Homo sapiens: one gene and its partners. The protein of the gene in region 4 purifies or fractionates together with the protein of the main gene of each other region. This does not show direct contact. Each region holds a gene or a part of one and is shown on either strand. Other genes may lie near its edges.

Region 1 (8,038 bases), on a different chromosome or scaffold from region 4:
TTTTCATTATCCAGTTAGTCAACAAGTCACACTTATTTTTCCTACAAAATATATCTCTTTAATCCATATGTCAGCTTCTCAATTGTCACTGTGAGACTACCTTTGCATTTTTATCACATCATTCGTCCTCTAAAAAAGTTTCAGTGGTACTCTATTTTTTTTTTTCCTCAAGCTGGAGTTCAGTGGTGCAATCTCAGCTCACTGCAACCTCTGCCTCCCAGGTTCAAGTAATTCTCCTGCCTCAGCCTCCCGAGTAGCTGGGATTACAGGTGTGTGTCACCATGCTCGGCTAATTTTTTGTATTTTTAGTAAAGACAGGGTTTCACCATGTTGGTCAGGCTGGTCTCAAACTCCTGACCTCAGGTGATCCACCCGCCTTGGCCTCCCAAAGTGCTGGGATTACAGGTGTGAGCCACAGCGCCTGGCCTCTATTTTCTTGTGTATTACATTATTGTAACAAGTTTCTATTCAGCTTTCCGAGAAGCTCTTTACTCTGATACTACCATACCTAAGTTAGGAGGCACTGTAAACAATAATCCAAGAAGTTTAAGATTTATTTTCAATGCCACTGCTCCCATGAAAACTCAAAGTAACCCTTCCCTACTCTGATTTACTACAGCATTAAGTAATGTCATATAATGTAATCTTTAATTCCTTCACTAGTTGATCTCTTCTCTCCAACTAGTCTGCCTCTCCCATCAAGGACCTTACCTTAGTCATACATGTATGCTTTTTCTTACTGCTCCAGCAGTTAGCAAAACTGGCTCACAGATGTATTAAAGAACTTCTACAGGACTCTTTTCTAGTTCAAAGTCTTTCTTCCACCAAACACTAGCTATTCAACAGACAGGAGAGAACTAAAATACCTTGGTGGCATAGACTTCATATTGCTCTCTGGCTCTTCAAATACATTAGGACTTGCATCAGGAGTTACTGATATATACGGGGCAGGTACAGATGTTGAACGTAGATATCTCATTTCATCCTGGAATAGATTGTCATCTTGATAGCCCACAAAATTTTCATGATGATGCCTGCATTAAATCAAACCCAATAACTTAAAGCATGATGGCAATACAGATCCTCTCCATTTTTAATCTCTTTCATAACAGGAAAAGCAGCACATGTAAATCATAGTTAAAGGCAAAGCATTAAAATAATCGTAGATGTAGGTAGGTGAAAATAAAAGTCTGATAATTTTATTCATCAACATTCCAGGTACCACGAACATTTCAAATCCAAAATTGAACTCAGTTTCTTTCCTTTTGAGAACTTTTCCATCTTCCAGTGTTTTGGTGAATAAGCCCACCAACCATCCAGTTGCTTAAGCTAAAATATTTCCAGTGTTGTAGTAGGCTTAGCCCTCTATCATCATCATCTTTCAAGCCCATGATATTAGGTTTCCTCTCAGAGCCATTCTCTCTTCTCATTCCCTATCATCACTGCCTTGGTTCATGCTTATTATTTCTTGCACAGACCACTGAAATACAAGCAGTTACTTTTTTGGGTAGGAACATACATAAGATCATATTTGAAAAATATTAGATATATGAAATTTTCTGTGGTTCAGGGTGGAAGGGGTGCCCATTCCCCAGACAGCTAAAAAGAAAAAAATCTATAATTATGCTGTGTTAGCATTTTTCACGTTTTACAATTTGATTCTTTCCTTTTCAAAATGAACAAATAGTTGCTAACCTAAGTCCACTGAGTGGTGTGATTCACACTAAAGATCTATTGTATTTTGGCATACTGATGATTTCCACCTCAGTCTCAAATGTACTTAGTCTGATATTTTCATTTTTGTTGCTTATTCATTTTATTGTAATAGTAAGCACAAAATTTTAAAAACCATACAACTCTGCTACACAAAGAGGACAATTTCCAAAATGGAACTGTTGGTCGGCAAGCCATGTCAGTGGGCAATATCTAGATTACCTTCATTTGTCAGCTGATGAAAAAAATTTGGTTTTGGTATATGAAAGGCTCTTTTGGAGTGTCAGTGCATGATGTGTGAAAGTACAGGCTGCACCACTGAGGTCCAATATATGAAAACAGAATACTAACAGGTTTCTATCTCCAGTAATGCACTTTTATCTAGTCTCCACATTAGCTTCCACATTCCACAGTGATTTTTTAATTGCAAACCAGTTCATGTATTTCTCTGTTTAAAATTCTTCCACTGTTTCCTCTGCTCATGGGATAAAATGCAATCTTAACCTGGGCTACAGAGCCCGACATTACTTGGGTGAACCAATCACTTTGAACGGGCTTTCACATATTTCCTCCAGTAGCCAGTCCTTTAACAACCCGTGATTCCTGAAATGTGTAATGAGATTTCATTTGTGTCTTTACTCACCTGGGTTATTCTTCCAAGAGTCGCTTTCTTCCTGTCGCTTGCCTGACAGATTTCTATTTATCCTTTGAGACTCTACTAAAGGCTCAGACCCTCTGGGAAGCCTTTTCTGATTTCCTGGGGAAGATTCAGATACTCTCCATCTTTTATGCTCTAACAGCATCTTACATACATACTTCTATTGTAGCACTCCTCACATGGCATTTCAAATGTTTCACTAACATGTCTGACTTGACATCCGAGTATGAGTACATAGAAGCCAGGATTTTGTTATATTCATACATTCAGGGCCTAGCACAAGGCTGGTAGGTGCCCAGTTGGTATTCATTTAAATGCTAACAGAATGAATAATTTACGAAATAAAAGACTGCTAAGGAAACACACTTTCTTTACACTTCAGCATTTCGCACTAACAGAGTGAAGTCAGCCTACCAAAGAGTAAAAGATAGCTATAGTCTTATTTTCTAAGACATGTTGTGTATTAATACAATGCAAATTGATGAAGCATTTTTATAGTTTTTTAAATACCTATTACCATAAAGTCATTATGTCAGTCAAGGCAACTCAAAAAATAAATGCCTGGAAGTTTGTTTATAGTACACAATAGCTAATAAAGTGTAGGTCAAATACCGAACTACCCTAGATATCAATAAACAATCGCTGTTAATCCAAAGGTGATTAAAAAACAACAGCAAAATTTTATTACCTAGCTAATGTCTGCAGGTAGAGACAAGGCATTTTCACAGGAAGATCCTCAGAAATGCCTTCTTTTACACTGGGCAACTGAGATTGGAATGGCTTTGCAGGATGGTAACACAGAATGCTCGGTTCTGCTGCACTGCTCAGGGACAGCAGGAAGAGTGCATTGGCTTTAATCACCTGGTGAGCTTCCATGGTGGGCAAGGCACGAGGGGTCTTGACTTGCATTGGTTTTCTCCTAGATTGTTTGACCTGGCGAAGAAAAAAATCAAACTAATCTTTTCTGACTTACATTAAAATCCTTAGTTTCTTAAGCTAAGTATTTTGAGTTTCCAATAAAAATTATTAAACACTTGTAAAGCTATTTTAAGATAATAAGATTATAAAAAACAACATTCATTTCATATTCATCCTGGGCTGACCAAGACAATTTTGTATCAAACACAAACTATACTTCCTTTCCTTCTTCAGAAAAATTTAACACCTAACTAGTTAAATCTAAATGTAATTCATTTTTTTAAAAAGTAAATCATTTCAGTGCGTGTATTCAGTGAAATTTTTTAGTTAGGTGCCACTAGAGTGAATAAAGAAAAGAGAGAGTAGATATGGAATAGGAAAACAAAGGAGCCAAAAAAAGAGGAAAAGAGAAAGAAGGTGAAAAGGAAAGCTCTCCATAGAGAGAATAACAGACAATTAATAATAAAGAGTTACACAACAAATATTTGTCAATAAGGCATATGTAGCAGAGGTTATCTAGTGTTATTCCAATATATAGTTAATTTTTAAAATTAAAAGCATTTGACTTAGTACAAATATTAAATTTGTATATGATTTCCATTATAAAAGCTGATCTTTTAATATCAACTATGTGGAATTATCTGATGTAGTAAGATTATAACAAGGTATTTTTATACAGTGTATCCATATCATTAAAAGTATAGCTCCAAATGGAATAAAATACCTTCTCCCTTGCAGCAGCCTGTTTTTCGCGGAGGTATTTTTCTCTACAGCGATCACATACCAGATACCAAGTGCTTCCTCCTATGCCACCATCACCACAGTTACCAGCCCATCCTCCACAAAAATGCCCAATGCTATTGTAACCTTGTCCACCAGCATATCGGCCACAACCTTGAAACAATACCAAAAATAAATATTTAACACTCCAAGTGTCCTTAATAGTTTGATCCTTATTACTCATACATTAATGACAGATTTACCTTCTCAAAGAAAGCAAAATACTGAAGTAGATATCTTATTTTTCAGGCTATTAACTATATCAGAAAAATAGCTTACTTGATCAAAAAGCAATCAATTAAATGATGCCCCAAATATGAGAGATACTTAGTTTCTAATCAGGCATATTAAAAGAGAGATAGAATATAGGTATATTTAGATATACTTAATTATGTCAATAAAATTAGACAATACAAGTATAAAAGTTCTATAACAATGATATATTTTCAGAAATCACATATTCATAAGACATTTGAGGTATAATATGTAGACAAAGAAAAAAATTAACCAAATTTGTATTAGGTGAATTTGGAATATTAGTCAATGTTACAGAAATCATTACATTTACTGAAAATGCAGTCTTCTGATAAAACAATATCACTTCCGTAGGAAAAAGCCTATAGAAATCAATCTAATCTAATTTAATTTGCAATTCTGAACAGGAAAATAGTAAAATCAAAGGAGATGCCCTGTGTGTATGGGCATGCCACTGTTTCTGCTGTGTGAGACAGACACATTAATGGCACACCCTTTGGGTAACACATAATATTTTTTAAAACATGCTACATGAAAGTGAAATAGCACTAAATGACCTGGCCATCATAATATTAGAATTTATCTGTTTTTCACAAAACCCTGTACTGATAATGTACTTTAAAAATGACATTCTAAGATACTATAAATTCCCTATCCTTTGACAAAATTCATAGAACAGCTCAAATAAAGTGATCTGGTTCATTAAAGAAAAAAGCACTTATACGTACATTCAACAGTATCATTTACCTGGGTGAGCTTGTCTCATGTGATAGGTCACCGGGTATGGATGTGACTCCCCACACAGTTCACAGATGGTATCTTTCTCTGGTCCTCCTACTGCCAGCTGGGCCATCTCTCCAAACAAATTACCCCTGGGCCTAACTTCTGCCTTTTCTTTTTTCTTTTTTTCCTTTTTGGACTTCTTATTCTCTTTCTCACACTCTTTCTTTTTAAGAACTGCACAGGAACCAGGACTTGGAAAAATCATATTCTGGGAAGCAGCTTTGATAGTAGCCAAAGAGATGTCTTCCCAAAAAGCCACTAAATGTTGTAAAGTTAAGGGAAGAGGAGACTTAGACTTCATTGTGTTATGCATGGACATTTCAAAAGTGGTCTCGGTTTTCCCATCCTCACATTTTTCATGCAGAGGTGGTTCCTTAAGCATAGACAATACCTTGTTTTTGTTGATGCTACCCATCTTAGATATATCTGGTCCATGGGGTGCAATATTAAACATATTCAGTGCAGATGATATTTCTAATGAATGTCTATTTTTTAACTTGGTTTCTTTTTCCTCTGTAGGTTGTTGGCTATTTAAACTACTCCTTATAGGAGCATGTTCTTTGGAAAGTTCAGGATGAAACTTTAGGAAAGAAGAACAAGCCATTGCATCATGTACTATGCCTTCATGCCAGAGGAAGGAAGCAAACACAGCTCTGGCACATTCGGCCACAGAAGGAGACATGGCTTGCTTGGCTGGCTCTAAAGGCTTGGATCCATCTCCTTTGAAAAGAAAACTCGATTTTTCTTTTTTGGGCCTGGTGTGTCTATTAGCACATTTTCGACTTATTTTGGGAGATGCTCTCATTTCCTGTTCATCTTTCAGTGGTGCTTTTCCAATGCTAAAATGAACTTTATTTGAACCTTCATCCACACTCTTAAATTCACTGCTGTCATCGCAGGTGCTGTCTGTTAGACTATTTGTTTTTAAAGTACTTGAGGTGCAGACTTCGACCACCTCACTGTGGAGGTTTTCCTGTACCACATGGGGAGAGGGAGCTCTATTTTCAGATCCAGGGGAATCTGTAGAATCCTTTGGTACTGATTTTGGTTTTGGTGACGTTGACCGTCCTCTCAAAGGTTCTGTGAGGGGCATTTTCTTCTTGCGGAGGGTATCTGGATCAAGTGTGTAAGAGTCTGATTTAGAACGTTCCCGAGGAGGATCAAGCTTTGTCTTAACAGGAGCAGTACTTTTTTGAGGTAGATTTTTATCATGTGGTGAGGAGGAGCGTGGAGAACTAGCACCCGATGGGCTAGACCTATTGGCTGGGAGAGTCTTTGGCTTAGGAGATGACAACCGAGAACCTGGTCCTGGGGATTCAGCTCTGGAGCTAGAAGGCATCCTCCCATCAGATTTCAATGTCTGCAAGGTGTTATGGTTGGGGGATAATGACCTACTGTGGGAATCTGACCTCAACTTTGCAGCATCAGATTTTAAGATGAGGGATTCACTAGCAGATAAACTTTCTGTGCCCCTTGGCTTCTTCTGATCAGCAGTAGTCCGGCTCATACGTCCATCAGGTTTAAGCGATCTGCTGTGTTTAGAGGACAGCTCTGATTTTCCTGATGTAGAGGCTGGTTTAGAAGATGTTGAGATGTTTCCTCGATCACCTGTATGGTCCATTTTACAGTGAAACTTATTAATAAAATTATAACTTACTGATAATTTAGCCACTAAACACTGAAATAAAAAAACATAGCTACAAAATTTATATTGTTTGTCATACATACTAAAATACTTGAAGAATAAAGGAAAGAAGGGGGAAATATTTCTAATAAAATTTCTACACATCATTACACAACATTACCACCAAAAACTATTTTCATGGACGCAAAACAACAGGTTGAACAAATCCAGTGTGAACTATCAGTGATATCTCAACCTCTGCCCTAGTGCAATAACTAGTTAGAATTTAAATTCAGTGAGGGACTAGAAAGAGACAGAAATTAATCTTTTGGGGAATAAGAAATTATTTAATGTGAAAACTTGTATTTTAAATGTAGAGTAGAGCTAAATTTCCAGCAGAGTGATACCTCGCATCCTTAGGGCAACGGTATGGGTTTTGTTGAATTAGAGAACTGAATTTATGCATAGACACAATTATAATTTTTAAGTGTATGCATACAATTAGGCTAACAAAGAGTTGCTTAAGAGGCACTCTGTTTTATGATCAGATTAGACTAGTTTACAATGAGCACATGAATGCCCTGAAGCTGTTATTTAATTATTTATAAACAGGTTACACTCCAAAAGTTCAGGAAGCTTAGCTGCTTAGAACTCAGAGCCTGTGTTCCCTTGGAAACCACAGAAACGGTGGATCCTCAGAATGAGTGGTAAAAGTCTGAACTGTGGACCCTCAAAACAAGGAGTCAGGAGAATGACAGAAAAACAGGATGAAAAGAAGAATCACCTCCCTTTTCTAAGGCAAAGCATTAGATGTTTCTGCATGGACATTAATTGTTTTTAGCACCCTGCCTTCATTCAGTGTCTCTCCTTCATTCTATTTTATGCTTTTCTTTGAGGCATTAGAGCCAGGCTGTCTGTGACCCAAGTAAATGGTACAAACTTCAACATCACCTTTCCTCCTTAAAATAAAAACTTCTACTCTTAGTGCAAGTGATACCAGTTAGTTGTTAGGAGAAAAGCAATCTGACTGAAGGGTTTCAAGTGGTATAAAAAACTGAAAATCCATAAACCTATCTGGAAGTATTTATATTTTTTCAAAGACAGTTCCTAGGAAATTAAGGTAGATTTGTTAACTGGCTATAACTGCATGTTATTATTTTTTAAAAGAAAAAAGGATGTGAACAAATTCAGATGATGTAGGAAAATGTTTTTTATGCTTCCGTGCATGTGTTAAGTGTGTATAGTCACGCTCTATTTCTCTATGGCTCAGGACAGTAGTGCTGGAGAATCTGCCCCAGTCTTTGTCA
Region 2 (8,994 bases), on a different chromosome or scaffold from region 4:
TGCAACCTCAGCCTCCTGGGTTCAAGTGATTCTCCTGCCTCAGTTTCCTGAGTAGATGGGATGACGTGCACGCCACCATGCCTGGCTAATTTCTGTATTTTTAGTAGAGACGGGGTTTCGCCATGTTGGCCAGGTTGGTCTCGAACTCCTGACCTCAGGTGATCCTCCTGCCTCGGCCTCCCAAAGTGCTGGGATTACAGGTGTGAGCCATCGCGCCCGGGCTCTAGTCTGTCTATGAGCAGAGCTAGGCCCCAAGTACCGAGATACTTGAGTCCTGGCACAGACAAGAAATTTAACTCTAGTGCTATTCAAATGACCCTTGACGCTTTGCCAATTACCAATGTTTGGGAATCCGACCATCCAGCCTTGCTCCAATCCACAAGTCCATTAGGTAAGAGGCCTGGCAATCCTAAAACCCCAACCTACACAGGAGCACCAAGAAAGCCCTGAGTCCTGGCCTGAAAAGAGGCCGGCTCCTGTTCTTGACTTCGTTGGCTCATGATTCTTTGCGTGAACAGGCCTTGCCTATAATGCTTCCTCACAGCCCACCCTGTGCTAATCCTTAGGAGAGAAAAGAGGTTCTAGCAGTATCATTCCGCTTCTCCTCAGCCTCCCTGCCCTGGCCTGTGCTGCCCTGGGGAAGCAAGAGCTGCACTGATCTCATCCCCATTTCTTTGGTCCATTTCCAGGGTCTCGGCCTATAGTAGCCCCTCCCCACTACTTTGTCCTTGGCCAAAGAGGGCACCGTGCACTAGGGGACGCTCCTGAGCGATCCCCAATAGCAGCTGAAGGCTGCTTCCCGGGGCGAGAGATCCTTCTCAATAATCAGCTTTGTAGTCAGAGGCAGCAGCTGCCCCAGCCCGCCCAGGCCTCCCTGGGAAGGGAGAGGACTGGATTAGAAAGGAGGCAGTTAATGGAAAATGAAGAGGGAGGGGAGAGGTGAGTTACACGCTGCTCCCCAGGGCAGTGACTTCCGAGCTAACAGCAGGTGGAGTTGCCCTCCTCCCTCGCTGTTGGTGGGGTTCGCTTAGGGACGGAGGGAGAAGGAGGCTGGCAGAGGGCATAGCCCCACTTCCCAACCCTGATTTGAGTTATCTTCCCCAGGGGGCCTTTCTCCCTATCTGTCCTCCAAGCCCCAGCAGTGTGATCATCAGAAGAAAGCACTGGAAGCTCTTGGAAACGCTGGAGTCCACTTCAGGACAATTTGTTTTCCTTTCTTTTTTTTCTTGTCACTGACTCGAAGCTCATCAAGACAATTTCTAAGCAGCTTCTTAGGTTAATGCCACCACTGGGAGTGGGTGGGATGACACAATATCTGTGTCCCCACAGCACCTGGCTTAATGTTTGCAGGCAGGAGTTTTGGGGGAGCTTTGGCCAGCTCAGGAAGGCCTGGGGACTTGAACCCAAAGGGGAAGGGCACTGACTTCAATTGAATTCTCCTGTGGGGTGGGTTCTCTCTGGAGGGTGCCTTAGCGGGAGGACAGACACAAGCCTCAAGTCATCCTCACTGGCACCTATGTCATGGGGGCTGCCTGGCACGCGAACCCCCATACTGCCTTGTCCTTCAGAGCACCCATTCAGCTTCAGAGGACGTGCATTCACCCAGACAGTGGCAAATTATGCGAGTGGCCCTATTTAAACACCACTGAACCTATTCCTGTAGGTACCATGTGCTGAGAGCCGAAAGCCTTGTAGAAAGTTCTTTAAGCGCTGTGCCCCACAGGATTGAGCTAAGACAGGGCGCCGCTAAAGGACATTTTGCACTTCAGTCCAGAGCCTGGTGTGGGTGATAAAGGGCCAGCCCTGTAAGGCCAGGACTGACTGAGTGTGCATGACGGCTCCAGAACTGTCTAAAGGCCTCTCCTGCTCCCGCGAGACCTCGATGGAGGCAGGAATCCCAAATATGGGAGCAAACACAACAGATCAGCACATGTCCAAACCGCGCCCCCTCCACCATCACCGCGTGAGGTCTGGAAGCCCACCCCAAGCAAGAACGGCAGGGCCTGCCCCTGCTCCACCCCATTAAATGTGGCTGGTTAGAATCCTCTCTAATGACACAATTAGTCACCCACTTGTCAAGCAAAGCGCCTGCTCAGAGGGGGTCTGGCGCACTTACTCAGCAAAGAGAAATGCCTCTGAGCACAGCCTGGCTGCCTCCTCCTCCCCCGAAGGGCTTCTCTCCAGGGTAAACCATTGTGTCCAGCACAGGACAGAGTGGGCACGCAGACACGCAGGCACGCTGACAATGCGCATCCCGGCTCTCCTCCCTTCCAAGAAAAGGAGCTCAGGGGTAAGAACAAGGGATTACAATCCGACTCGGAGACCCTGGCGGTGGCCTGGACCGGCCAAGCGTGGTGAACTCCAGGGAACATGGGCACACAGTGTAGGGGCTGGGATGAGTGGATGAGGGAAATCCGACTCCTCTCAGATATCCACAGGCAGGACAAGGTGGCCAAGGCCGAGCTGATGGACAGCATGGCGGGAGGCCTGGGGCAGAGGCAGGGAGGGCCGCTTTGGGGTGCTCACTGGTGCTCCAGGAGGGCTTTATCCTGCATCTTCACTCCATCCAGGCCCAGCTTACCTACAACCCGGGGGAGTGGGGGTAGGAGGGTGTTAGATGTGTAGCTTGAAAACGACAATAAAAAGGACTGCTGGGATCGGGTGCCTTTTCTTTCAGTCCCAGCCCACGGGCTTCACAAAACGCCACAGCACTGACTCTGAAATCTGGACTTCAAATTGGCTGAAAAAGAAAAGCCAGCTTTCCTCCCTCGCCCCCCGAAAGTCCTACTTTTTAAACATCAAGATAACTCTCATGGCAGGCCTGGAAATAAGCCACAGGCACGTGGATTTGGGAACCGGTGGGCGGGAGGGGTCAGAAGTGGGTGAGGAGCAAAATTCCAAGCCCTGGTCCCGAGGCCTGGGAGCCAGCAGCTGCGGAGCACGCCCTGGGCTGGGAGAGGCCGAGGGGAGGGGAGAGCAAAACACCTCCAAACAAACTCCTTCGGGCTCGCCCCTCGCCACACTTTCTGGGGGAGGGCGGCGAGTTTGCGGGGCTGCGGCTTAGCATGGCGGGACCTGCATTTCCTGCGGGCCGCGGGTTCTGCGCTTCCTGGGGGCAGCCTGGGCTGGAGGCCGCGGCCCCGCTCCCTGGCTCGGCGGGGAACGGCAGCGGCAGCCGGAGCCCCGGGGGTGGGGAGGGGGCCGCGAGGGCCCCGGTGCGTACCTGCCTCGCCTCCACCGCCTGCTCCTCCGCCTCCGCTGGCGCCGCCGCGGGATCCCCTGGCCCTTCGGGCTCCCCCGGTCCCGCAGGCTCCCCGAGCTCCCCCAGCCCCGCGGGCTCTCCAGGCTCCTCCGGCCCCGCGGGCGAGGCCGCCGGCTCGGGGGCGCAGGGGCGGGACGGCGCCGGGGCCCCGGTGGCCTCGGCCGGGGGCGCGGGTTCCGGGGGCGCGCGGGCAGGCTCCGGGCTCGCGGCCGCCCCACGCCGCACCAGTAGCCAGGCGAGCAGAAGGGCCAGCGCGGTGGCCAGCGCAGGCAGCGCGGCCAGTAGCTCGGCCGGCGCCTCCATCGCGCCGCGGCCGCCGAGTGCGGGCCAGCTGGGACCCCGAGGGAGCCCGCCGCGCCCCGTCGCCGCGCCCGGTCGCCGCGCCCCGCCTCGGGGCGGAGCCCCCATCGCCGCGCCCCGCCCCCGCCCCCTCCGGCCCCGGGAGGGTGACGCACAGGCTGCGGGCGGGGGTGTTGAGGGGGCAGAGCCCTGACCACCTGGGAGGCACAGGAGGGCCAACCCCTGCCCGGCCTGGGCAGCCTTGACGCTTTGGGGCACAATTTAGCTCAGGTTCAATTTGAAATACTGTATGAGGTGCCCTTAGGTTGTCATCTTTGGCCTTAGTACGGCGGTTCGTCTTAGAGCATTTTGGAAATGTGGGAATGCAGAGAGACAAGCAAACCCGGGAAGCTTCATGGAAACGGCAGCCTGGATTGGCTTGTAAAGCAATCATAATGCCGGATTACGTTCAGCCACTGCCGTTTTTATAGGCATGTCAGGAGTTGCTTTTAATCCTCAGGGTTGCCTTAATGCACTTTCACAGAGGACATCTCCAGATCCCGGCCAGTGAATGCTCCCTTCGGAGCTGAGGCCAGCAGCCTTCAACACAGGCCTCCCTGTTAACAGTAACATGGCTCCCCCGCCCCTAGACCTGAAATTCAGCTGCAGGTCCTTGGTCAACGCTATTCCTCTTACCAGACTTTCTTCTTTGCACAATTCCAGAATGCATGCAGGGTGGGAGGGTACAATGAAGGAAATGAAGGCTATTGTTTTTGTTTCTCCAGATCCTCCCAGGCCTCTGTTGCTGAACAGTGGATTTTGAGATAAACACGTTGTAACCAAAAACATACTTTCCTACCACTCCCCACCCACTCTTTAGTTATTTTAAATAAACACAGGACGGGCATGTCAGGTATCACGCCAAACATAAGGCCTAATGTTAAAAAAAACACGGTTCCAGTTTTTGCTGAGGATGCCTTTAATACTTTTTTGGGAATATTACAGTGCCTGAGCTGATCTGTGATATAAACCAGATATTAGATGGAGTGCTTCTTTTTAAATGAAGATACACAAACGAGACCCCTCAGCAACAGGGAGAGCTGAATTCTGCTGCACTGCACGATATTAAGCGGGCCATGCACTTCCTTTTAGTGGTGGTTGATGAAAAGAGCCTATAAACTATAAAATGTGAAATAGGCTTTATCTACGGGCGACTAGCTTTTAACCACTGTGGAAGTTTCAGCCAGTGTATGGGCCTATTTTTTTTCTTTTGAGATGGAGTCTTATTCTGTTGCCCAGGCTGGAGTGCAGTGGCGCAATCGCGGCTCACTGCAACCTCCACCTCCCGGGTTCAAGCGAAACTCCCACCTCAGCCTCCTGAGTAGCTGGGATTACAGGCGCCCACCACCATGCCCGGCTAATTTTTTTCTGTTTTTAGTAGACAGGGTTTCACCGTGTTGGCCAGACTGGTCTTGAACTCCTGACCTCAGGCAATCTGCCTGCCTCAGCCTCCCAAAGTGTTGGGATTACAGGCGTGAGCCTCCGCGCCCAGCCAATTTTTTTTTTTTTTTTTTAAAGAGACAGGGTCTTTCTTTCTTTTTTTTTTTTTAAAGAGACAGGGTCTCACTATGTTGCCCAGGCTGGAGTGCAGTGGCTATTCACAGGCATGATCATAGCTTTCTGCAGCCTCGACATCCTGGGCTCAAGTGATCCTCCTGCCTTAGCCTCTTGGGCAGCTGGGATTACAGGTGTGCATCAATGCTCCTGGCCCAGGGCCTTAATTTTGTGCTCCATCCCATTGTTTTAAAGTGTAAATACATTTTTTTAAAGTCCTGTTCTGCTGACAAAGTACATTGTTGACTTTCAAATGAGTAAGAAAGAAAATAAGGACAAAACAATGCCAAAAACACAACTCCAAATCATGTTGCTTTATTTAAAATGATGAACAAGTTTCACCCAAGTGAAAGTTTAAAATACCAACCCAATAGCAGATCCACAGGCTTTCATGGCAGACCCCATGGCTAGACGGACGCAGAACTAGGAGACTGCTCAGTGTTCTGACAACTCCAGGAGGCACGAGTGTGCAGAAGACAGTCCCAGTTCTTCTGTAGCATCCAGTCACTTTGGAGACAGCTGGCCAGGGCTAGCTCTCCTCCCAGGAGGTTCACTGGGGCTTAGATGACATTTCTTTTTTTTTAAAGACAGAGTCTCGGTCTGTCACCCAGGCTGGAGTGGCTTGATCTCAGCTCACTGCAACCTCTGCCTCCTGGGTTCAAGTGATTCTCCTGCCTGAGTTGACCAAGTAGCTGGGACTACAGGCATGTGCCACCACACCTGGCTAATTTTTGTATTTTTAGTAGAGACGGGGTTTCACCGTGTTGGCCAGGCTGGTCTTGAACTCCTGACCTCAAGTGATCCACCTGCCATGGCCTCCCAAAGTGCTGGGATTACAGGGGTGAGCTACGGCGCCTGGCCGAAATTTCTGAACAATGAGACAAAGTTGAGAGCCACCGCCTGGGGGTGCAAGCTCACCTAGTTTTGCTGCATAGGATGTCACATCTTGACACAAGCTAGTGGGAGGGGAGTGTGGAAGAAGCCGCCAGACTCCACTTCAAATCTACCAGCAATACCAGTACACACATCAAAAACAACTTACTCGTGGAAATACTACAGACAATCTAAAGAACCTACAGCTGGGGCATCCTTATACGCCTTCCTCCTACACAGCATTTTTTACATTTACTGCAAAAATTTTGTTCCATCCTATACTCGTCTAAAGTCCTAAATCCAAGGCTCAGTCTCTAGTAAGCTTATAAAGCATTTGCACCAGCAACCTTCCCACAGATCCTTAGTTTTGCTACTTTATGAAGAAGCTGTTACTACCTTAAGTATACATTGGTGTTAATTATGCTCTTTCATGTAGATCCGTTACACCTGCATTTAAGAAGGTCTGCACTTTCTTCTACCTGCCCTCACCAGCGGCCCTGTGAACAGCCGCAACAGCCGCACATTCACTGTCCATTAAGCTTGTGGAGCTTGTCAGGGACCTGGGCTTGTCACCGTTATCTCCAGCACCTCAAGAGCAGTGCCTGGCCCTCAAACACCTATTGAACGCTTGAATTATTAAGACACGGACAGCTGCAAGAATACAGCAAAATGTGAATGTCCCTCTTTTCAGTGGCTCTCCCCTCAAGGATGTCACCCTAAACATCCCAGTACCACTAATGGCAGAGGCATGTGTGTGAAGCATGGATTCTTCCAGCTGATGGTGAAGCCTCATCCCCAAAGACCCAGGGTCCTCCTGATGTTCTAGGTCCCCAACTCTTCTCTCTCCCACTCTGGTCCTTCCATCAGAAGTTAATAATCCAAGATCCCTTCTTCCAGGACCCAGCTCTTTGGTTTTAAGATCTGCTGTCATCTTGGAGAATCATCCCTGAAAATAATCTAACATTATCTCCTTCACTTTACTGTTGTTGGCACCATTCAATGGAGTAGCTCACGCCAGATGGGAAGAGGAGTTAACTTCTGAACAAGTGGTCTCTGGGTACCCACTCTTCCTAGTCTACCTTGGCCACCCGCCACCACTCCACTCCTTTTCCACACACGGTTTCCCCACCTTGCCCCTGTTGTGCTTACATAACGGACAGCCTGGCTAGCCCACAGAGACAGTAACGGGGGTTGGGGAATAGGGCTGCTGAATCCCTGGCCTGGCAGGAATAAACAAAGCATGTCCCAGGAGCACAGAATCTGTACTATCCAGACACTGTACTATCCAGAGCTGACTTGGGCCTATCAGATATGTTATTCCCCTCATTTCTGGAATACTGTTATCAAACAGGAATCAACTTTAGCATCTGGAGAAAGAAAACTGGGTGGCTAATCTTTATTTTCTAGATTATTATTTTTTTGAGAGATGGGATCTCACTATGTTGCCCAGACTGGTCTTGAACTCCTGGACTCAAGCAATCCCCCTGCCTCAGCTTCCCAAAGTGCTGGGATTACAGGTGTGAGCCACTGCACCTGGCCTTGGTGGCTAATTTTTAAAATTCAAAATTTCTGCTCCCCTATCCAGACCACTGGCAACGTGTCCTACCACGCCCCCTGGTGGCAAAGAGCCTTTTTGGGCTGTTTTTTATTTTAAACTGAAGTTTAGAGGAGTTGTTGATAGAAAACTGAAAGGAAGGTAAGGAAAAAGGGCAAGCGTGGCAGCACAGGAGCAATGCTGGGAAAAAGAAAAAAGCTTTTTATAGATGGCAAGAAAAGTCTTTTTAAAAAGCAGGAGTAGCAACACCACTCAGATATTACTACCAAGAGATTATACATTCAGAGTTTGACTTTACTCACACCCAAACACATCCTGTGCCCACCACAGAACCAAGGGGGCTGTGGGCGTGGGGGTAAGGAGGGAGAGCAGCCCCCATGGCAGGCAGGCAGCACAGTTCTACCTACCCAGCCACATACTGGGGTTGGCATTTGAGGATGCAGAAAATTGAACTAAGACAAAAATAGAGAACCAGCCTCCTAGAGTAAAGCCACATGACCCAATGTCAGGAAATGACAGTCTGTTAATAACAGTGAGCAGAGACCTGTATTTTCCTGGTTACACCTGTTTCTAGTGGATATTTTGAGAGGCAACAGCACACAATTCTAACACATCCACACACAGCCTCCCTGCCTGTGAACACTGCAGTGAGAGCTCCTTCCCACCTGCCTGCCAATGCCTCCAACGCTCCAGCCCAGGCAGTGCTTCCAAGTGCGCCCCATGGCCTTGACAACCCCTCTTATTGAAGTTTAGTTGAATTTAGGGACAAATTAAGGCAAGCAGGTGAATCAAGAGGGCAAGAGATGGCATCTGCTGGTCAATCCCCAAAAAGTCATCCAGTTAGTTATTTAGAAGTATCAACAGACTGCAAAGACTACAGGTGCCATCTCTGAATTTACTCCCCGTGTGTAACACAAGTCACCCACTTAACGTCTGTAGGTCAAACAAATGGGGAACGCTAATCTCAGAGTACCTCGCAAAGTGAGCACTTCTTATGGATCCCATGGTGCGGAAGAATGGAGCCTATTCATACTTTAAGTTCTGTGGTAAGAGCACATTGCACACCGTTCCCACTCTATGCAAACAAAAAACCCCAATGTATCACCCCCCCACAAAAAAATACACTGTACAAAAACACCCCTGAAATTTCAGTCTCTATGATGATGGAGAAAAAGATAAGGAATCCTAAGACAGACTGAGCAGTGGGTGATGGTGATGGTGCTGGGTCACTGCCACTGAATGCATTTGTGGGCTGATGATGACATACAGGAAGAAGGGCAGACTCCAAGTCCTTCCGACACATAATTGGCTCACAAAGTCCACTCACCACTCTCAGTCTCTGTGGTACACAGCTGGCTCTGTGGAAACTCCTTACCGACATCCGTGAGGTAACAGACACAAGACGTTACAA
Region 3 (7,847 bases), on a different chromosome or scaffold from region 4:
TCAAAGACTTAAATGTAAAAAAAGAAAAAAAACTAGAAGAAAGTTGGGGAGGGGGGTTGTTTAATATTAAATATCGCAGAGTGGAAAGGCCAAGATATTACATAAACCTAAAAATCATAAAAGGTTATAAATTCAATTGTATAAAAATAACCACCTTCTCTGCACAGCAAATGCCACCATAAAAATGTCTTAAGACAAACAGCCAATTAAGAAATAATATTATTCAAATGAAAAGGGCTAATTTCCCTGATATAAAGTATATACAAATGAATAGGGAAAAATATCGACAACCCAATAGAAAAATGGAAAGGACAGGCCAGGCGCAGTGGCTCACGCCTGTAATCCCAGCACTTTGGGAGGCCGAGGCGGGTGGATCACAAGGTCAAGAGATTGAGACCATCCTGGACAACATGGTGAAACCCTGTCTCTACTAAAAATACAAAAATTAGCCTGGCGTGGTGGTGCACGCCTGTAGTCCCAGCTACTCAGGAGGCTGAGGCAGGAGAATCACTTGAACCTGGGAGGCGGAGGTTGCAATGAGCCAAGATGGTCCCATTGCACTCCAGCCTGGCGACCGAGCGAGACTCCGTCTCAAAAAAAAAAAAAAAACAGAAAAAGAAAAATGGAAAGGATAAACTGTTCTTACCTATCAGGCTAGCAAAGGTCAAAAACTTTGAACAGACTTCTATTAAAAGCTTGGAAAACATTTCTCATATGCTGGTTCCATGATGCATGAAAGGAAACTTGACAACATCCTTCAAAATTACAAATGCACATATCCTTTAACCCAGCAATTCACTTTTAGGAATTAATCCTACAGGTACAGACACACACTTGAAATATGAATATTAATCACAGAATTGTACATTACAGCAAAAGATATGAATGGGGAGCCTCTATTTACAGTTTTAAAAAAAAAAGTCCAAGATATGAAACAGCAGCTACAGTGTGCTAGCATTTCTATAAAGGGTGACTATATTCATATTTGCTTGTATATGCTAAGCTCTCTCTGGAGGAACATGCAAGCAACTGTATCATCAGTGGCCTCAGGAAGTGGGGGCAGGGTGGCTGAAGCAGGGGTTAGGGAAACACGGTGTCGATATTTTGTTGTAAATATTTTTATTCCTTTCCAATATTAAACCATGTGCTATATTACCTATTCAAAAAATAACTGTTTTTAAAGGCAAAAAGAAAAAAAAAAAGGGTGGCCCAATCATACAATAAATACATATACATGTGACCAAATCTGGGATTATGGTTTATAGATTGAAAAGCAGAAAGGGTCTATTTCTCCTGTACATGTGTTTTATTCTATCAATGCTTGGTTTGGTTTTATTCATCACTACAGTTTTATTTTAAAATTTTACAGAATTCATTCTAAGTTTTATTCCTCATTACGCTTTTATTTTTAAATTGTACAGAACTTATTCTAATATTTAAACAGAAATGTTTGCTTTTTCTACATAAATAGGTTAATATCATGTTTATCTTTATTATGTCATTTTGAGAAAAATAGAACGCTCAATTGAGTGCTAAAGATTTAAGCTCAGAGATATGCACTTTATGTTCCAAATGTATAAAATGCAAACTATCATGCTGATAATACCTACTAAATACTCTGCATTTCTAGAAAACTGGATAAAATTAAGGCATATAAACCTCCAAGTGGGATTTACATCCTTAGTGCAAATCAAACACAACCAGGGAAAACAAAGCTAATAAATCTAGAAACTTGTATCTTCTATAAGGCTAAAAACACAACTTGCATTACAGAAGTAGAATCTTAACTGTAATGAACTCCAATATCACTAAATGACATTTCTGCCAGTTACTTTTTTTAAAAAAAAAAGTGAAACAAAGTAATCTCTGTTTTCCATGAGCTTATAAAACGACTTCATGCTTTATCAAAGAACATCAATTACGTCATCTGAATCTACTCTCTTTTTTTGAAATAGGAATTTAAGTCTAGGTAGTTCCTCCACAATTTCCTTTATGTCCAAGTAAAATAATCCTCGATATAGGTGGAGAGAAAGGCATAACTGAATTAACTCAAAAAAGCAGAAGCAGATTAATTAGTATTCTGATAAAAAGAATATAATCATTTGGTAAAATCTGCGTTGAATTGTAAAGGTTCATTTTAATTACCCCAACTAGGTAACTGTGCAGTTGGAGCATAACAACTCCTTTACGTTCGACTCTTCCAAGACTTTGTAAGTGGCACTTATTTTAATGATATAGAATTTTGATGATATCGCCATTCTTGTAACGTGACAAATTATCTAAATCACAACATCTGCGGTCAGGCTGTTTCTCAAGATTTCTGTTCTCCTGCCAACTAAAGAGGCCCCGACTACTCCTTGGCGCGCACACTGAGGCCGCGCTGCAGGTCAGCACCGAAAGAGCCCCGCACGGATCCCGCCCCACAGGTGCGATTTACACAACCCACATCACCACCACCCCTCCCAACTTCACCACCTCTAGGGTCACCACCCTGTGGGGTTTTGTCTTTACGACTAAGCCGATTCCCTCTGCCTCGCTGGGGAATCAAACTTCCCAGTGACAACGACAGCGGCCAGCACGGGACGTCCACCAGCCCGGCAGGGCTTGACGCTGTCTCAGACCCGGGGAAGGTCCGGAGTCCGGGCACGGTGGCGCGGGGTGCGCAGCCCTGCCCACCTGCCCTACCTGGTGCGAGCCCCGGCCCCGGGGACTGGGGAGCCAACACGGCCGAGCGGGCGTGGGCAGCAGGGCGAGCGCCGGGAGAGGAGAGCGACGAGGGGGGGTCAACGGAAAGAGCGGAGTAGGGGTGCCAATCGAGGAACTTTGGATTTAGGAGGAGGGGGCCAGAACCGCCCCACTGAGGTTTCTTCCAGAAGTTCGGAGGCTTGGGAGAAAGGGGTGGGGAAGAGACCCGTAGAGGCTCGGGTGCGGCGGCGGGGAGGATCCCCGGGGTCTCTGGGCTGACGGAGTCTCCGGCCTCAGGGAGGAGTCGCCAGGGCCGCCGAAGCCGAACTGGCAGAGGAAAAGCAGAGGAAGGCGGCGCGCGAACTCGCCAGCAAAGGAGGGCTGCGCTGCTCCCGGAGCGGAGCGCCTCGCAGCCCGGACCGCGGGACTCACCGCGCTGGCGGCGGCGGCGCCAGACGACGCGGGGCCGGGCACGTCCTGCCTCCTCAGGCGGGACTTGAGGCTCTTCATGGCTAACTCTTGCCTGGCCCCCGCGCGAACCTTAAAGGCTGCGGAGTGCCAGCGCGCAAGGAGTAGACGGCAGCGGCTGCAGCAGAGGCGGCGCGGGCTGTACCAGCCCCACCTGCCTGCCACCTGCGGGCCCCGGGCAGCAGACGTCGACAGGCCTGAGGCGGGGCTCCCCTCCCGTAGCCAATTGACCCGCTGCCCTGGCGGGGGCGTGGCAAACCGCGACCAATCGGAATGCGGGAATGGGGCGGGACTTCCCTTTTAAACTGAGTAACACCCTTCCTCTCCCAGCTGGAGGAAAAGTTTGGGAACTTTAGCCCGGGAAGGGGCGGAGGAGGTGGGCGGCCAGAGGCGTGGAGATGCGCGCAGGCCGGGCTCCAGGCCACCGGCGCCCGCCCACCCGGAGCTTAAGATCTAGAGAGAGCACGGGGTCCCGCCTTTGCCACCTCTCATCTTCCCGGACTCCCCTCCTCTTTCCACCCACGCGCTCTTTACCAAGTAAAGTTCCTTCCCTTCCGTCTGGTCTTAGAAATGACTCTTGGTTACCTGCACACAGAACAGCTTTCAGGAGCAACTTCTTTTCAGTCTCCTGTTTTACTACCAAATCCTGGTGCCTGGAAACCACCACACGCATCAAAAATTCCAGAAATAAACAGTCTCTAAGAAATAAGGTGCTGATTGTGCAGAAAAACGTACAGTTAAGAAAGACCTTGAAAGACGTTATAGTAAGTTACAGTACAAGTTACGTGCTCGTTTATTTGTTGAGTGAAGAATCCGCCGTATTGGAAGCAAAGGGACGGAATGGGGGCGGGGAGGGAGGAGAAGAGGTGCCATCAATTAAAAATGACTCCCACAGCCAGTGATTTAAGTTGTCAAAAAAAGTTACGCCCTTTTTTCTTCAAAAAGGTTTTTTGTTTTCTGTAGAAACACATTACATGTAAACGTATACGATGAAGTTAAATCATCTTACCTAGAAATCTGGGTTAGTAAAAATTATTTAAGAGGATGAAGAAACAGGAAGGTGCTCAGCACCCAATAATTTGCTGTTCGGGTGACATCTTCAAAAGTCTTCTTTGGAGTCATTTTTCCCCCCAGCAAAACGTTTATCGTAGCATGCATCCATTTGAAAAGACAAACGGTCCACATTTTCTGACTAACAAAGGACTCTTTTTTGTCTGAAAGGTCAGTTGCTCTCTTTAGAGTTTCTTTATAGTAACGCAAGGTTTTCTTCAAATACTGTAAGAAAGTTTTCAGAATTTCTTGGAGAGGCAGCATTCAAAGACTGTGTTAACCCTATACAACAAGTAAATAACAACTAACTACCCAAAAATATTATTAAATTTCATCTTGATTAGATCTTTGGAAGAAAATTTTCTTTGATTCCTCCCCCTTCCTCTAGATCTCCAGTCATTTAGTTCTTGTTGGCTCTTTAAAGTGTCTGTGTATGGTCAGTTACTCTGTTCTCACTGCCACTGCAGAGCCAAAATTACCTCATACCCGGACTATTATTACAGAAGCTTCCCAGCCAGTCTCCCAACCTTCAGTCTCTTAATTGTCCCATCACCAATAAATTATCAGCCATCATCAATAAGTCTTACAAAAATACTCCTCTTGCTCAAAAGCCTTCAGCAGCTAACGAATAAAATCTAATTCTTTGCATTTAAAGCTGTATAACGTGGACGCGACCCTGTTCTCTAGCCAACACCCCAAGCGAATTACTCTTCAGCCCATTCTCCAAACATGGGTCATGGCTTTCAACTTCCACATCTTTATGCATACTGATCCCTCCCCCAATAATCTTCTGTCTGTCTACATTCATCTCAGAAAATCCTACTCCCCCAAGAGTGATTGGTAGGGGATGTCGGGGGCTTCTGGAATACTGTACTATTCTCTGTGGGTGCTGGTTACATATCTAGTGTTTTCAGATTGTGAAAATTCAATGAGCCTGTACTGTATGCAATATATTCTCTTTTATGTGTGTGTTATGCTTTAACAAAAAGTTTGTTTTTAAGTGTATGTCCCTTCCAAGTGCCCTCCTCTCTATAGAACCTTCCCTGATCAAGTAACTGGAAGTGATCTCTCCATCCTCCAAATAGTTACAGCAATTATACCTCTCATATGATACTAACACATATGAGCTGAGCAAACCTTATTTCATTACTGGACTTCAATTTACTTAAAATTGGGGAATAACTGACATATATTTGAATTCCCTAGAATGCTTAGCATGTTATAGGTGTTTAATAAATATTTCTGAATGAATTGATGCATTCTTATTGACTACTATAGCAAATTATGGTTGTTTGTTCTATGTATTTATGTGACACAGGATTGGGATTCCCCCTATTGTGAACACAGATGGAATGATCTGAGGCTATGGTCCTGCTCAAATATTTGTGTCTCAATCAACTCCTTTCTCTGGGCTTAAGATAAGCACCCATTTACCATCTAGTCCTCTGACTGAATCTTAAATGTTAATTGCTTACAAGAGCACTGTCTCAGTAATTGGCTCTTGAGTTATTAATTGCAGTGTTATGTTGTACTGGTTGTCTCCTGTAACATCCAAGTTATCATAGTCCTGGTGACTGGCCTCCTTTTCTGTTGTTACTGGATAAAGCAAAGGAAACAGACAGAACCACAAGTATAGCTTGCATCAGGTTCCAAAAATGTTGGGCAAGTTATTTTTATGAACTGTCTGGATGATGTCCCCATGGTGTCTGTGTCCAGTGGCCTTTATGGATTTTTCCAGCCTAGAAACTTGATAGCTGATGTCTGCTTATTCCCATTTGAGAGCAGCTAAGTAAATAGCACTGGTCTGAATATTCAGTAAAGCTTTTTTACATTGATCTGGAAGCTGCCTATATGAAGTAAAGTCACTATTATTAGCATTCAACCAGACAGGTTGGGTTTTATTTTGTTAACTCTTATCACTATTATTTATTTTTATCTTCCCTTCAGAGCAAAGGGCACTTATCAAACCTAGATGACCTTTTGTTTGTTATCACACTGAGCCTATATAAAATATTTTTTTGTTTTACTTCTTTTTTTTTTCCAATATTTATTTATTTACAATATATACCAGGAAGGGTAATGCATTTTTTAAAATTACTTTACTAGATTATATATACACATGGTAATCTCAAATAATACAAATGGAGCAAGTTGATCTGCTTACCACCCCTATTTTGATCCCTGCTGTCAAGGAACTTGTGTTCTGGATTAGATAACAAATGTGTAAGCTGTATGCTAACACATACAGTTTAACTGGACAATCGCTTACTGAATCGTGTAGTAAGATTGCAGATGGTATTTAGGGAAGGAAAAGATCAACAGATAAGTTTGCCTGAAGGGAGGCTATCCAAGGTTGAGTATCCATTCAATGAATACCAACAGGTGAGAAGTAATACCAGATGGGCAGAGGATACCCAGGGGACCTGCCAGAACAGGGAAGAGAACACAGTCGACAGATGCTCACTGATAACTCAGATGATGATAACGGCAAAAACGATGACAAATATGATTTCTCAGAAGAAGAATAAAGAATCCACACAGAGGGCCGGGCACAGTGGCTCACACCTGTAATCCCAGCACTTTGGAAGGCCGAGGCGGGTGGATCACGGGGTCAGGAGATCGAGACAATCCTGGCTAATATGGTGAAACCCCGTCTCCACTAAAAATACAAAAAATTAGCCAGGCGTGGTGGCAGGCACCTGTAGTCCCAGCTACTCTGGAGGCTGAGGCAGGAGAATGGCGTGAACCTGGGAGGTGGAGCTTGCAGTGAGCCGAGATGGCGCCACTGCACTCCGGCCTGAGCGACAGAGCAAGACTCCATCTCAAAAAAAAAAAAAAAAACAAAAAACAAAAACAAAAACAACAACAATAAAAAAAAGAATCCACACACAGGCCGGGCATGGTGGCTCACAACTGTAATTCCAGGACTTTGGGAGGCCAAAGTGGACAGATCACTTGAGGTCAGGAGTTTGAGACCAGCCTGGTGAACATGGTGAAACCCCATCTCTACTAAAATACAAAAATTAGCTGGGCGTGGTGGTGGAAGCCTGTAATCCCAGCTACTGGGGAGGCTGAGGCAGGAGAATCGCTTGAACCCAGGAGGCAGAGGTTGCAGCGAGCCAGAATAACGCCACTGCACTCCAGCCTGGGTGATAGAGCAAGACTTCATCTCAAAAAAAAAAAAAGAATTGACATACAAAGTCTAAAATTTGCACATAAAATGAGTCCTTTTCAAACATAAAGATCTCCTTCCAGACAAGCTTTAGTTATGAATTCTATATCCAATGACTTCCCTCTTCATTTTCAGAACTTCTTGCTGCTCCGAGTAGCCCTGGGGACCCAGTGAACAAAGCCAGTGAATAATTTCATGAAGGGGCCCATGACATCAGTCATTCTCTCAGATGCCAAAGCAAATGGCTGGCAGAACCACGTGTGGCCACAGAGTCATGAGGAAAGGCACTTCTACCCAGAAATCATAGGCAGCCCAGGAAATGAGAGACCTGAGGCAGTTCTCACACCCTCTTCTCTTGCCACATTGAAAACTAAAACATTGCATAAAAGAGCTTTAAAAAAATAAATAGGTCATCTTCGGCACTAACTTTAAAAGAATCTGTATTTTTAGTAAGCTCACCAAAGGCTGCATC
Region 4 (5,329 bases):
TGTGCCTCCTCTTTTCTCCAATCTATCTCATTTCTTATTCCTCCTTCCCTTTAAATCTGGCTTCTAGCCCCACTGCTCGAAGAGGCTGCTCCCTCCATTCCTTTGTTCAACAAATATTTGTCAAGTGCCTATTTTGTGGAAGGTTCAAGGAATATCTGGTGTAAGAGGAACTAATTTAGCCATAAGAAACTTAAAGCCTAATAAGGAATCCTATATATAAACAGATAATATGTGAACCATTGTAAAGATCCTGGGACAATAGGGGAAGCTAAACTTTCCTAACAGGGAAATTTCCAACAAGAGGATATTGAGCTGAGTCTTAGCAAGAAATGAATTTGCAGCAGAGTATGGGTAGAGGGTATTCAGACAGAGCAGAGCATAGAATTACAAAGGTAGCAACTAGCAGATAAGGCTGGTTAAGGTGACAATGTTTACATGCTTTGCTAAGGTGTACAGACAATGAGTAGCATTTAAGTGATTGTACGCAGGAGAGCAATTTGGATTTGTAAAAGACCACTCTGGCAGCAATTTGAGAGTGTGGAATGGAGGTGGCAAAGGTAGGAAATAGACAGATTTATAGGGAAGATCTTGCAATTGTTCAAGTTACACATGATGAGTGCCTGGACTTCGAAGAGTGTTGGCGGAATAAAGTAGAGATTTAAAAACATGCAAGATGTAAAAATTGGAATATGAGGTATTCAAAGGCAGAGATGTTTTGTTCAATGACATTTCTCAAATATCTTGAGCAGTACCTACCCAAAGTAGATGCTAAATAAATATATGCAGGATTCTGGGAAGATGACAGTGTCAATGTAGTTTCTGAGTATTCCTAACTCTCCCCCCAAAATAAGCATAACAACTATCCCCACTTCACCTCTTTTCTTTCAAGTTACTCTTTCTCTAAGTATTATTTCTGCATTTGAATATATTTCTTCATTATGAATATCGCATATTTTCATTACTTGTATACATGTCTATCATCCCTAAATGATTCAGAGCTCTTTAAATAAGCTGATGACATTCAATATTTAACTGTTTCCCCTTTCCATGCCCAGTCTTTATTTCCTGTCACTCTGTTGGTATTAAAAAGAAATATAGCATTTAAGAATATGCTGTCTATGAGGAGTCAGTGAAAATTTATAATGGTAGCAAATAGGCAAAATTGTAAAATGTATTTACAAAATAATGGCATTAATAAAATGAAAAATAATGTTAATATTTTTATTGAAATAAAAACTGTATAGAGACACGTGAAAAAAATAATTTATTACAGACTCTTTTACACATTAACATGGAACATTTATACATATATCGATGTGCTGATATGAAATACTAAATTTAAAGGCAAACATTTTTACACAAAAGTAGTTGCACTCTATTTTATAAAGATAGATATTAATAAGTTATCAGAGACATTTAAGAGCTAGAGGCCAATTATTCCAACAGTAATGCATTCTATGCTGAAAGTAAACTAAGTTTTCTGAACATGATGTCCTGGATATAATCACATTCTTCTAAGCTAAGGAAAGGGAGCTCATTTCTGGGAATACAAGGCCAAGAAGGGCTCTAACAGCAGTATCCCAGCAGTGTGTTTCCAGATTTATTCTTGGATGTGGTTGGAGCTCCCAACATTTAGCCTGAACTAATGTAACAGCTCAATGTGAAACAATGCAGCTTTCTGTAACAGCTGCCTGTGGTTAATGAGATTTAATACAGGGGATACAGTTACAAATGATAGCATTTTAGAAGAATTATAATTGCCATATGATTTGAATTAGTAATCAAATACTTTAATAACAGAAACGTGTATTCTATATTTCTGAAAGGGAAGTAGCATACTTCAAAATAGTCACTATTTTCTTAGCATGATATGTTAATTCTTACTTTGGGAGTCTGAAAATAAATTGCATTTTTTCCCCTAAAACTTAGAATTCACTCCTTTAGAAAATGATTTCTATAATGATATACACCAACATGATATAAACTTTATTACATTATAGTCATTAAAATATACATATACATATATGTGGAACACTAAACAGATTTGGTAAACATGATATAAATATACACATGGCCAAACACTGTTCAGTTTCATTTAACTAAATTCAACAAATATTTATTGGGTGCCTACTACTTGCAGATCACCATGTTAGGTAATGCTTGTAGTAGATTTTAAGACACATGAAGCTCACATCATCCACATCAAAAGCCAAACTTTAGATAATATACTAAAGCCTAAAAAGTAATAGAAAGCAGAGCTAAGGTTGAATAACGGATAGTGAGAGATATATCTAGAAGAAAGTCTTGGGGTAATGGACAAGGACAAAAGAAAATCTGTATCCATAGGGAAGAACTGCTCCTGGGCTTGGCACGTGTTAGGAGAAAACTGGAACCTAGTCTGTACTCCTCTTCACCCCATAATCCAAGATTCAGTCATCATCCTGCTTTGTTTCCTTAAATAGGCAGAAGAAAAGAGGGATTGATTTACAGTGATAGTGAGGTTTATAATATCAATTAAATATATTTTTCTCTTTATGAGAGTGTGATCCACGTTCACATCTACAGTTTCTGTAAATCATTCCCACCATAATTCTGGGAAAAACAGGACCGCACGACTAAGATGACCAATGTTTGAGGTAATTACGGCTTAGTTTATCAGAAGAACATCAATAAGCATGTCCACCTCATAGGAAAATGATTTAATGTTAAACCAGGTGAAAGAAGATAAATATTTCAAACCCTGGCATTCTATTCCCTTTAGAAGTTGTTATGCCCTAAAAGCATCTTTAGAGAGTTTATACACACTAAAAGAGAAATATGAGCATGCAGTCTTATCCCCCATGAGGAAACAACACATCAACAGGGTAACAAAGTATCAAACTTGCTTCTGATGCCACTCCTTACAAAAGGCTAGGAAGAGGCTAGCCATGATCTTAGTGTGTGCAAGGCCTCTATGAGAGGTGTGATTCCACTTTGGATGTGCCACTGTTCTGAAGTCCATTCTAGCACATGGGCTCTGCCTGGAGTATAACCATAGTAGTAGAAAGAACTTAAATCTTCCCTAAGGAATTAATCAGATTCTAGCAAGTTAAAAATCACTCATCTATCTAGGAGAAACACATGAGGGACTAGGATTTCCAAAATTCCCCAATCACTCCATAGAAAGATAGCCTGCCCCTTAAAAGGATCTTAAGCTTCATGGTTAAGAAACCTCCCATGAACCACAGCCCTTATCTGTGGTGATCTCAGAGCCAACTTAGAGAGCTGAGGAAAGGGGTCAGGGGAGCCCCTCACAGCCCACTTACCTTTGAGCCAGACTACAGAGGAAGAGCAAAACAACCACAACAGCAAGAAAAAAAGCAGCCTTCTCAATCCAGTCTGTTGGTTTTCATTTCATTAGAGGACAAAAATCACTAAAGTATCCCCTAAAAAGTACTTATGATTGTAATTGGCTCATTAATGTTCAATTATTTCCACTGCTTTACTTAGAAGTTAATTTCTGTTAGCAAGAATTCTTTTCAAATGAAATACATTTTCAGTGATTTTGCTTTAGTTTTCCATACTTATACTCTGTCTTAAGTACGCAAATTACACTTTGATTAGTCATACCTCTGTTCCTGTATTTTTTCTGGATAGAAACCAAACTTGCATTGGTTCTTTTTTGCCCTTCATGGACACTGGGCCTCTGTGCTCCAAGTGGAATTGTGGATCTGAATTTTCTGGAGACATAAGACATCTAAAAGACAAGGGAAGGGGAGTAGAGAGAGAAGTATACACAAGTTTTATAGAGAAGGTGACATGTATCATGTTATAAACCAAGATGGCAAGAACAAATGCTGAAGTTGTACTGAAAGGTAACTCAAAGCTTTAGAAACAATGATCATATCAGGATTTCCTAAGATGATGTGAAATCATATAAAATGGAAATAATGACACAATCTTCTCAAATAAAAAGTAAACAACTCTACAAGCAGTGGGGAAGAGTGAAGGTGATAACTCTGTTAAAGCAACAAAATCTCTCAGAGAATTAAACCACATGCAAAGACACATTTTCTTTGCAAATCAGTAAATACCAAGACATTTTCTCTCACCTGTATGTATATTCAGACACATTTATTTTTCCCTTTTCTCCTGTGGTTTCTGTTCGGCTTGTGAGGTTGACAGTATTCCCAAAAAGACAGTATCGAGGCATCCGCTGTCCTATGACACCTGTAACTACCTCTCCAGTGTGTATCCCTATTGTTATCTGCAAAAAAGAAAGCTTTGCTTCAATCATTTTGATCACTAACACATGAATTTTTTTTTTTTTATTTTACTTTAAGTTCTGGCATACAGGTGCAGAAGGTGCAGGTTTGTTACATAGGTATATATGTGCCATGGTGGTTTGCTGCACCTATCAACCCATTATCTAGGTTTTAAGCCCCGCACGTATTAGGTATTTGTCCTAATGCTCTCCCTCCCCTTGCCCCCAAACTCCCAACAGGTCCCGGTGTGTGATGTTCCCCTCCTTGTGTCCATGTGTTCTCATTGTTCAGCTCCAACTTATGAGTGAGAACATGTGGTGTTTGGTTTTCTGTTCCTGTAACACATGAATTTTTGCTTACTTTATATTACAGAATAATGTAGAGTCATCATATAACATCGTAAGAGATGTCTATAAGAATTTCAAGCATATTATGGACAACTTCAAAAGCCCTCCATGAAATCTCTATCTCCCCAGGGAAATATCCTATCTCAAGAGAAACATTTGAAGTCTGAAGATTTCAAAGATGTGAATCTAGTAACTTACATGAGACATGAAAGAGGTTTTAAAAAATAAACTAGAAGGTACAAGAGGTTTTTTTCTCATCCCCATGACTTTCAGTACATGAAACGGACTAGATAATTTCAAACAGGTAGATAAATCTCCATGTCTATGAAAGAATGTAGTACAGTGGGCTGGATGAAATGCTATAGTCTTTGTTGTCAAGATGCCCTTCTTTATACACGTTAATGATTTTCCGGACAACGATATGAATCAATTGTCCAAAAAGGTTTACATACCATTATTACAATATCTACTTCATTTACTAACCTGAACAGATTCACCATCTACTTGAACCTGGCCAGCAATTTCCATCATGTCCAAGGCCAGGTGGCAGATGGATCGTGCATGGTGAATGCATGGCTCTGGTAAACCACTCACTGTCATATACTTGTCACCAACAGTCTCCACCTAACAGTACATATATTTAGATGTTCACGGTTAGCATAAAAAAGACTGTTTCATTTATTACCCTAACAAAAAACATATTTTTTCAAGTCTACCAGCAACTTTAAGCTTCCCTCC

The links.
Region 1: the proteins of GUCY1B1 (region 4) and MYCBP2 purify together in Homo sapiens (affinity purification with mass spectrometry; 2 studies listed by BioGRID and IntAct, with this or other methods). This does not show direct contact.
Region 2: the proteins of GUCY1B1 (region 4) and MXRA7 purify together in Homo sapiens (affinity purification with mass spectrometry; 2 studies listed by BioGRID and IntAct, with this or other methods). This does not show direct contact.
Region 3: the proteins of GUCY1B1 (region 4) and UACA purify together in Homo sapiens (affinity purification with mass spectrometry; 2 studies listed by BioGRID and IntAct, with this or other methods). This does not show direct contact.

Annotation. Positions count from the first base shown.
Region 1 is NC_000013.11:77,092,299-77,100,336, forward strand, and holds part of MYCBP2 (E3 ubiquitin-protein ligase MYCBP2), read right to left. Parts: intron 6,716-8,038; coding exon 5,072-6,715; intron 4,184-5,071; coding exon 4,014-4,183; intron 3,305-4,013; coding exon 3,060-3,304; intron 1,035-3,059; coding exon 867-1,034; intron 1-866. UniProt on the Homo sapiens protein: Atypical E3 ubiquitin-protein ligase which specifically mediates ubiquitination of threonine and serine residues on target proteins, instead of ubiquitinating lysine residues.
Region 2 is NC_000017.11:76,707,382-76,716,375, forward strand, and holds the start of MXRA7 (matrix-remodeling-associated protein 7), read right to left. Parts: upstream 3,585-8,994; 5' UTR 3,566-3,584; coding exon 3,224-3,565; intron 2,178-3,223; exon of another isoform or gene 2,117-2,177; intron 1-2,116.
Region 3 is NC_000015.10:70,760,213-70,768,059, forward strand, and holds the start of UACA (uveal autoantigen with coiled-coil domains and ankyrin repeats), read right to left. Parts: upstream 3,347-7,847; 5' UTR 3,196-3,346; coding exon 3,118-3,195; intron 1-3,117. UniProt on the Homo sapiens protein: Regulates APAF1 expression and plays an important role in the regulation of stress-induced apoptosis. Promotes apoptosis by regulating three pathways, apoptosome up-regulation, LGALS3/galectin-3 down-regulation and NF-kappa-B inactivation.
Region 4 is NC_000004.12:155,803,510-155,808,838, reverse strand, and holds the end of GUCY1B1 (guanylate cyclase soluble subunit beta-1), read right to left. Parts: intron 5,216-5,329; coding exon 5,075-5,215; intron 4,247-5,074; coding exon 4,092-4,246; intron 3,737-4,091; coding exon 3,610-3,736; intron 2,454-3,609; coding exon 2,430-2,453; 3' UTR 1,028-2,429; downstream 1-1,027. UniProt on the Homo sapiens protein: Mediates responses to nitric oxide (NO) by catalyzing the biosynthesis of the signaling molecule cGMP.